Regions from separate parts of the Homo sapiens genome. Here region 2 is reported to be linked to region 1. The links are microRNA targets in miRTarBase. Many come from high-throughput screens and were not tested one by one. Region 1 holds a microRNA gene; the other region holds the end of a gene's coding sequence.

Evidence for each region. Region 1 holds the annotated microRNA hsa-miR-4659a-5p (CUGCCAUGUCUAAGAAGAAAAC, at 2,660-2,681, opposite strand). A microRNA usually pairs through its seed, bases 2 to 8, with sites in the 3' UTR of a target mRNA and lowers its output. Matches are read on the target gene's strand: a 7mer-m8 pairs with bases 2 to 8, a 7mer-A1 pairs with bases 2 to 7 and ends in A, and an 8mer does both.
Region 2: miRTarBase lists EBF1 as a target of hsa-miR-4659a-5p. Seed matches in the 3' UTR shown: 7mer-A1 at 1,843-1,849.

The regions. Positions count from the first base shown.
Region 1 is chr8:6,743,706-6,747,857 of GRCh38, reverse strand. It overlaps MIR4659A (microRNA 4659a), which reads right to left and starts at 2,694; the gene lies at 2,614-2,694. It overlaps AGPAT5 (1-acylglycerol-3-phosphate O-acyltransferase 5), which reads right to left. Exons shown (of 8, transcript NM_018361.5): 6 at 30-188. It overlaps MIR4659B (microRNA 4659b), which reads left to right and starts at 2,618; the gene lies at 2,618-2,690. RefSeq lists enhancers at 456-750, 1,352-1,401, 3,014-3,093, 3,124-3,403 and a silencer at 1,542-1,591.
Region 2 is chr5:158,695,442-158,699,441 of GRCh38, forward strand. It overlaps EBF1 (EBF transcription factor 1), which reads right to left. Exons shown (of 16, transcript NM_024007.5): 16 at 479-3,701. The coding sequence ends at 3,670. Among named protein-coding and RNA genes, the nearest start is that of LINC02227, 290 kb to the left of the region's middle. RefSeq lists an enhancer at 2,330-2,984.

The DNA of each region.
Region 1 (4,152 bases):
AGGCATTTCAGGTGCGTGAACACACTTACCCGTCATGGTCGGTGACTCTCTTCGCTGCCCTCCATCGTCTTTCCCTTCATAAACCACCGTAACATCATAAATTGCATCTAAATAATTCTTCATGCAATCAAAAGCAACGTGAGTTGCCTTTATTCGTGGTGTTAGCACATGTTTTAATACTGCAAGGCCTAGAAGTCAATTCAGTGCCGTCATTAATTAGTTACAAAACACCTCCACAATATACTGTTTAACATCTAAATTATTTTTAAATTCCCTCAAACACACACAACAGAATCTATTAATTCCACAACCTCATATATTTAGGGCTCTAAGTTTAGAAAGCACTCTCACTTGCCTTTTTCTGTTTAAATCAATATTCATTTGCTATATATTGATCAAATATCTACATGTACAAGTCACCGTGTTGGAAGTTTATGGCCTAGCGGAAACGCTTCAATCTAGTAGACCCCGGCAAGGGTAAATATTAGTGCCCTCGCTTCTGGCCACTGAACAAAGGTGATAGCATCTTGCCCATGGTGACTCAAGATTTCCTAGAAATACAGTCACACAGCACATGGCCTCCTGTTTCTGGCTTCTTTCGCTCAGCATGGATCTGAGGTTCATCTGTGTGGCTGCAGGACTCAGTGCTTCATTCCTTTTTATGGCTGAATAGTTAGTATTCCACTGTGTGAACAGATCACATTTTGTTTACCTATTAATTGCTTCATGGACATTTGGGTTGCATCCATACTTTGGCTATTATGAATAATGCTGCTATGAACATTCATAGGAATTGCATATGAAGGCTGCAGGTGAACAAGCTTTTGTATGAACATACGATTTCAATCCTCTTGGGTATATCTGACATATTTTTAAAAGGTTCTTTAGCTGGGGGACTACTGCAATTATCCAGAACAAATCCCATTCATTAGGTTCCTACTAGGGTTAAGGATTTGTTCTTCTCTCCTTCCTATTACCTCCCTTTTCCTTGATTAAAATATTTACTGACAATTTAACAGAAAACAGTAGCTCTCAATAAGTGACATGAAAATAGACTATAAAAAACTAGTCTAGATTTTCTACTGGCCTCTCTGGAGGGAAAGTAGCTGAGTAAGGAAGAACAGCTATTACATGGTGGGACTGTCCCACACAAGAGGTTTTAAAATGCAGGGTGGTGTGGGAAAGACAAAGATTCCCACAAGCACGTATCTGACTTTAGTCCCCAGGGCAGGGGCAGTTAAATTGATTCACAAACTTGCAACAAAAATCTCAATCGCACACCAAGCTGGGAAGCATTTATTTGTCAGTTAAACTAGTTAACACTTCCTTCTTTGCTACTGGAGCTCATCCAACTTTATGAAGTCCAAAGTTTCAAAATATCACTCTGTGGTGTTCACTAAAACAACTAATTACTGGCATCCAAGTAAGTTAGTAAGGAAATAAAGACAGAAAGCTAGTATTTTTAAAACATAAAAGGAAATGAATTATCATGAATGTTTTAAAAAAATAGCTTTGTGACTAGGCTTCTGCTCCAGAACGCGTAGATAAAGCCACACCATAACTAGAAGGGGAATGGCCAAGAGGAAGACATGCAGAGCATGCCTGCGTGCACCCACCTGCCATGCAAAGATAAGTGGAAGAGCAGGAGGCAGGGAAACAAAGAGAACACGGAGCCGGGCGCGGTGGCACGTGTATGTCTGTAGTCCTAACTACTCAGGAGGACTGCTTTAGCCTGGAAGTTGGGGAGTGGGGGAGAGAAGGAAGAGAGGGAGGGAGAAGAATGCAGAAAGAAAAGAGAGAGAGGAGAGAAAGCAAGCAAGCAAGAGAGAACGAGTGAGGGAAGGAAGAAAGGGAGGGAGGGAAAGAAAAGAAGGAAGGGAGAGAGAGCGAAAGAAAGAAGGAAGAAAGAAGGGGGAGAGAGAACATGAGTTCAAATTGGGCATACTGAGGCTGAAGGAACAAAACATTCTAGAAGTAGTTGGAAATATGGTCTGTAAAATGGCAAGAATCAACCGAAGCTAAGCATGTGGAAACCATGGGAATGGATAACTGAAGTAATGGCAGTGGCTGAGAATAATAAAGGGCAGAAGATGAAAAGGCAAGAAATACAGACTCCGGAAACATCCACATTAAAAAAAAAAAGGTAAAAATAATAACAGGGAATACGACAACCCAGGAAATAAAAAAAGGGGGGAAACCAATGTAATACAAAAACAAAGGGAAGAGATGTTTAAAGGAAGAGGAGGTGATATTTATCTTCAACAAGAAAAATTATACTCCATTGTTTATTTCTACAATAAAGTTAAAATTATTTCCTGGTTATAAAGGTATAAATAATGTCAAAAGTTATGTGAAAGTTAACAAATATGACAACTGACACAAATGATACGATGCTTTGGAGGTCAGTGGTTAAGTGAGAAGTGGGATTCATTTCTGGAGAGTGGATGGAGTCAAACACAAGAAAGCAAGGGGCCCAGACTTCTCTTTGCACAGCTATAGACTTAGTTATTTCAGAATTGGAGTACATTTGCAAGCTGGGAGAAACCCCTGCAGAGAAGTAAGGCAGATGACTGAGGCAACGATGGAGACAGGGTAGACGGAATCAAGAGCTTAGAAACTGTTGACGTTGCCATGTCTAAGAAGAAAATTTTTCTCCAAAGTTTTCTTCTTAGACATGGCAGCTTCAGCAGTTTCTTCCAAAGAAATCCAAGTCAAGAGACTCCACATTAAGATTTTGAAATCAAAAGGGATATTGGGTGCACTCTTTCCAGAGAAATATAACTTTCTGAAAGCAAAAAATCCTTGAATGTGAAGAGAACAAAAATCCGTGAAAACCATGAGGTAGTCAAAAGGAGAAAAATAAAAGAACTGCTCCACACAGACTTGGCTCGGCTGAAATGAAATGGCCTGGCTTGGCTGCAGAAGGCAGTCAGCATTGATCTTACGATGTTCTCCACTGCTAAGGAAGGGAGAAAACAAACAGGGTTGCCAAGGGCTGAGGAAAGGCAGGGCAGGAACAGAACAGCCCAGCACTGGGATGGGCAGACCCCGGGGCTGGGGCAGACAAGAGCTGCAGAAGGCCCTGCAAGCTGCAGAAGGGCCAAGGAAAGAGAGATTAGAAATCAGCCAAAAACACAGGTTTAGAGCGAGTGAGGAGGAGGGAGAACCAGAGTCAGCTATATGGTGTGGGCGAGCCAGTGCCATTTCCAGATGAACTTCAAGGTGGTAAAAGCAGAGCACTGGACCCAGCACAGGACCTCGAACCAAGCACAGGATCCCAGACCAAGCACAGGACCCCGAACCAAGCACAGGACCCCGTACAGGAGAACAAGATCCCCCCAAGCCTCCACAAAGGACTGCAGCCCTGCCAACACCTTGATTTCAGCTGAGTAAGACCCATTTCAGACTTCTCAAATGTAAGAGAAGAAATCTGTGGTGTTTTAAGCCACCAAGTTTGTGGCCCTGCCTGAGAGCAGCCACAGGGAGCAAACACACCTTCTTAAGAGCGAGAGTGCCGTTACCACACAAAGCTGAGCACTAGCTTTCTTGTTTGCTATGCTTTCTCAGAAGTTGGCTTCAAAGTATTCATTTAATTTCTACTTCTTTGATTATGAGAAAGAATAAACATTTGTTCAAGTGTGTGGGTCATTTGTATCTCTTGAATTTCTTATTCATGCCCTTTTCCCATTTTTCTAGTTTATGTCTTTTCTAATTATGAAGCACTTTTGTAATATTAAGTATATTAATATCCTATATTATAAAATATTATTAGCTTGCCATTTGCCAACTAAATTTGTTCATATGATGTTTGAGACATAAAAATAATTTTTATTCAGTTAAGTCTACAAAGAAAAAAATTGCTTTGTAGCTTATTCCCTTTGTTCTCCTGTTTTGAAAGAACTCTCAAATCTCTACAATCGCCAGTGTTATTCACCCTATGAATAACATGGAAATTCTAGGTATCTGGTTTGCCATTATAGACACATCATTAAATTTCTGTTTTCTTTTAAGAGAGTTCAAAAAGCTTAAGTATGTCACCTTCGCTAGCAACTATGGTTTTAACCATGGCAATTAAAAAAAAAAAACCACCATAGGGGCTTACTTTAATGGGTCCAGGTGGCAGATTAAGATACATTTAATTCCACATCCCTT
Region 2 (4,000 bases), not on the chromosome of region 1:
CTCAGTTCACACATGCCTCCTCATCAATGAGCCAGGGCACATAATTAGTTGACCAGAAGGCTCGCTGGGATTAATTAGCAGCTGTGTGTGAAAAGCTTGGTTCAGATTTGTAGCACGAAGGATAGGGGTTCTAGAATGGCCACTTCCTGGATTCACAGTTCAATCACGCAGGAGGATCTCAGGGCTTGGCTGTTGAAGTTGCTGGGGGCTCTTGGCTCCTATATGGACCGGTGTGGGCATGTGCACATCCAGCTACCGCCGGCAGAGGGCAGCAGTACGCTGCGCGTGTTCAATTTGCATCCCAGATTAGCAAATCCCCAAGGACCTACATAAGAAAGAGGGTGTCCCAGCACTACCCTAATTCCTTTTCACTGGGTATCAAGACTGATCTGAGTCATTGCAAACACAGACCTTTTACATTATGTTGGACTTTGGCTCATCTGAAATAGAGAAATGAATACACAACTAGGAGCTGCCATCACAGACAGGAAGTAACTTTAATTAAATATTGTGAAAGTTGAAAAGTTTTTACAGCTTGAATTTTTGCAAAAAAAAAAAAAAAATTTAACAATCTCTACAGTAGTTAGGTTCTCTAACAATTGAACTGTACAGTGTGTGTCTATTCAAAAAGTTTTGATAAGAAGGTGAAAGGTTAGTAGATTTAGAGATGACTTCATTTAAGCTGCATCCTAGTACAATGTGAGGCCAGGGCAATGTTATGCAATCCAGTCATCCAGAAGCTGTATTTTTTCCCCCAACACTGAAATCTTAATTTAATTCTTCATTTCATTTTCTTCTTAAAGCCATATTCTGTATTTAGGGGAACATCTTTTATTTGTAAAACTTTTGTGGAGAAGAAAGAGGATCAGAGGGCCAGAATGTCTTTTCATCTAATCAATAGAAATAGAAGCAACAAAACACAAATTATACACATTTTAAAGGCTCTTTGGACTTTCAAGAAGAGTTCTAACCACTGCACATGGCTGACAGATGGGTAGTGTCTGTTGTCAAGGTCTAAGCCGGACACCTTCCCGGCTGACCGTTCATTCCTTCAGAAACAGTTAAGGGGCTCACCAGATAAAATATGGCTTTAACTTGTGTACATCTTCAGGCCAGCGCTTACCACGCAAATTCAGATAACCTTTCTGAGTACCGAGAAGCAATGCGTCCACCTTGCTTACATTTTCCAGTTTTTTTTATTATTATTAGTCATCATTATTATTTCTCACCATGAAAAACAGCTTTCCTCCCTCCCCTACCCTCCCACAACTCCCCTCCCCCACCCACCCCAACCCATAAAAATCGCACTCTTGACAGCCTAGTGAAAACCATTGCAAAATCCATATGGGGGCATGCACAGTTGCAGCATTGTTGTAAATGATTTCTTGCTCTACTAGAAAAAGTTACATTGTCTTAAGGTAACAAAACAGTTCTTTTGTGCTTTTCGATTTCTTTGTTTTTTTTTTTTTCTTTTTTTCTTTTTCTTTTTTCTTAGAATGTTAGTGATGACTGACAGTTCTGGTGCACAGTTACAATGTACAAGTGAAATGAATATGATTTGCATTGTTAAGGCATCCAATCTGCTGGTTTATATTTATGTGAAAGACAGAGGAAATATACAAGCAGACTTAAGAAAGAAAGTATGTTCATTGATTTCTATGAAGTTTCTCCCTAGAATTTAATGCACAAAATGCGTCACTCCAAAGGGAGAGATTCCATGCATATTAATAGAGTAAAACAGCATTAGGGTTGTTTTGTAAGCTTCCAAAGCAAAGGATACATTTTTTTTTAAATCTACTGAACTAAATACTACAAGAATAATATGCTACTATTTTTTTTTTTTTGCCATATATTGGAAAAAACTTCTTAACTTACAAATAATACAAAAATAGACAATGACTTTTGGGTGGAAATTAAAAAAACTGAAGCATGGTTTATAACAATACTAAAAATAACTATAAATGAAATGTTTAAAAATCACATTGAAACAGCTAATACAAGTGTAGGTGACCAAACAAATACGCACTTTTCACGTAGCAAACATACACAATAAAATAAATTGGGGGTGGAAGGAAGAGGAAGAAGGGAAAAGCAATGTACAAATTCGAAAGATAAATACATTATTTATATGGATATTTTACAAAATCCCCTTTAAAACAAAAAGCCTTTTAATTAACTTTGCAAGTATGTGCAAGCTAAAGGTAGTGAGCTTTTTTTCTTTGCAAAATACGCAGTAAAATCTTTTTGTGATATTGAAAAAATGTCTTAAGACATTAAAATGTATAAATAGAACAACAACTTTGGCAAAAAATCACAAAAAAAAAATCTACAGTATTTATAACTACATACAAAAACACAAGAGCAAAGAAAAAAATATCAGGCAAATGCATCCTCAGAGCTTTGCTGCATCTTTGCTATTAATTCTTATTTTTAAGAACACTTCCCAGATAATGAGAGCAAAAATTCCCATAGAACAGAAAACTATGTTTTGGAGGTCTCAACCTTCTTTTCCTTTCTCCACCCCCGGTTCCCTTTAACTCTTAATTCCAAAGCACTTAACCTGTTGTTTCAATCTATTATGTTACAAATGGTAAGGGTCGACTGATAGAGGCAGTATCTGGAATGGGAAAATCGAAAATACCTGCCACGTTGCTTTTATCAACTTTTGGAAGATAGGTATGAAGTCTGCATTTAGGACGAGTAAACTTTAAACTTGCAAATGGGGGAGCGTACGTGAGGTTTTGGCTTGTTAACTGGAGGGCAGAGTGTGGAATTCTGTGCCTGGACCCTGTTCCATGAAGTCTCAAAGGAGATTCTCACACAGTATGTGTGCCACCAAGCTCTCGAGAGGCCATCGGCTTCAGAAGAAACTGACTTAAGTAAAAGGAGAGAATGAGATCAGATTTAAATATGCAGTTTTAACAATCTGTCTAGAGGCACTGGATTTTCGAGTAGAGGGAAAAATGTGATCACTTACATCGCGTTTTAACTTTCCAGGCTGCATTTATTTACACAGTTGCTTAAGACAACAATACAAAAGAGATAAATAAGCTTGCACTGCTAAGGGGTGGCATGTTAAGTTAGATATTGAAAATGCACTGTCTGAGCTAACTACCATTTGATATGCTTTAAGGCGCAAAAGCCGACCCTTAGTTTTTCTAAAAAATCTAACTGGCATTCCTATTCTGTCCCATACAAGCTTTTTTTTTTTTCCTTTTTTTCTTTTTTTTTTTTTTTACTTTTTTGTAAATATCACCACTTCATTCTTCCTTTACACAGCTTTAAAAACATCATAAATTAAAACATGGAGTCTTATTTATAGTGTCCCTTGTATAGAGCTTTACGGTTTATAAAAGACAAATGATTGCAGAATTAAGCTTAAAAAAAAAAAAGAAAAAGAAAAAGTGGATTTGCTTTTGTCAATACAGAATAAATATATCCCCCAAATACTTGGGAGGTACAACTTTAACCAACACCCTGCACTTGCAGATCCCTCTTCCAATTTCAGTATTTGCAAGGTCGGTGATTTTGTTTGTTTAAAAATCTGCAGTTATTGTGATTCCTCTTAAAAAGGCCTGAGTTAAAAGTTCCACTCTGGGACTTGTATCAGATTACTCTCTGTAGCAGAATCCAACCTCTTCATTAATACAATTCTTCAAGGCAATTCTTTCACATAGGAGGAACAATCATGCCAGATATCGCTATGAAAGAAAAGACAGAAGTCAATGGTTTCTTTGCGTTCAAACTTCTCACTGAGAAAAATAATGAAGACTAAAAAAAAAAAAACACCCACACACAACTATGTTGTTCGACTATTAGCCACAAATTTGCTCTCATCTTCTCTGGAATGAATTTTCGTTATAAAATATACATGTGCTTTATTAAAAATTATAATAAATCAGCATGGGTATGTGTCTTTAACAGAACAAAATATCCTAAACATCTCTCCAAATCTGATTTCAATTTTAAGGCATAACTGGAAAGTTGCATAGTTTGAATA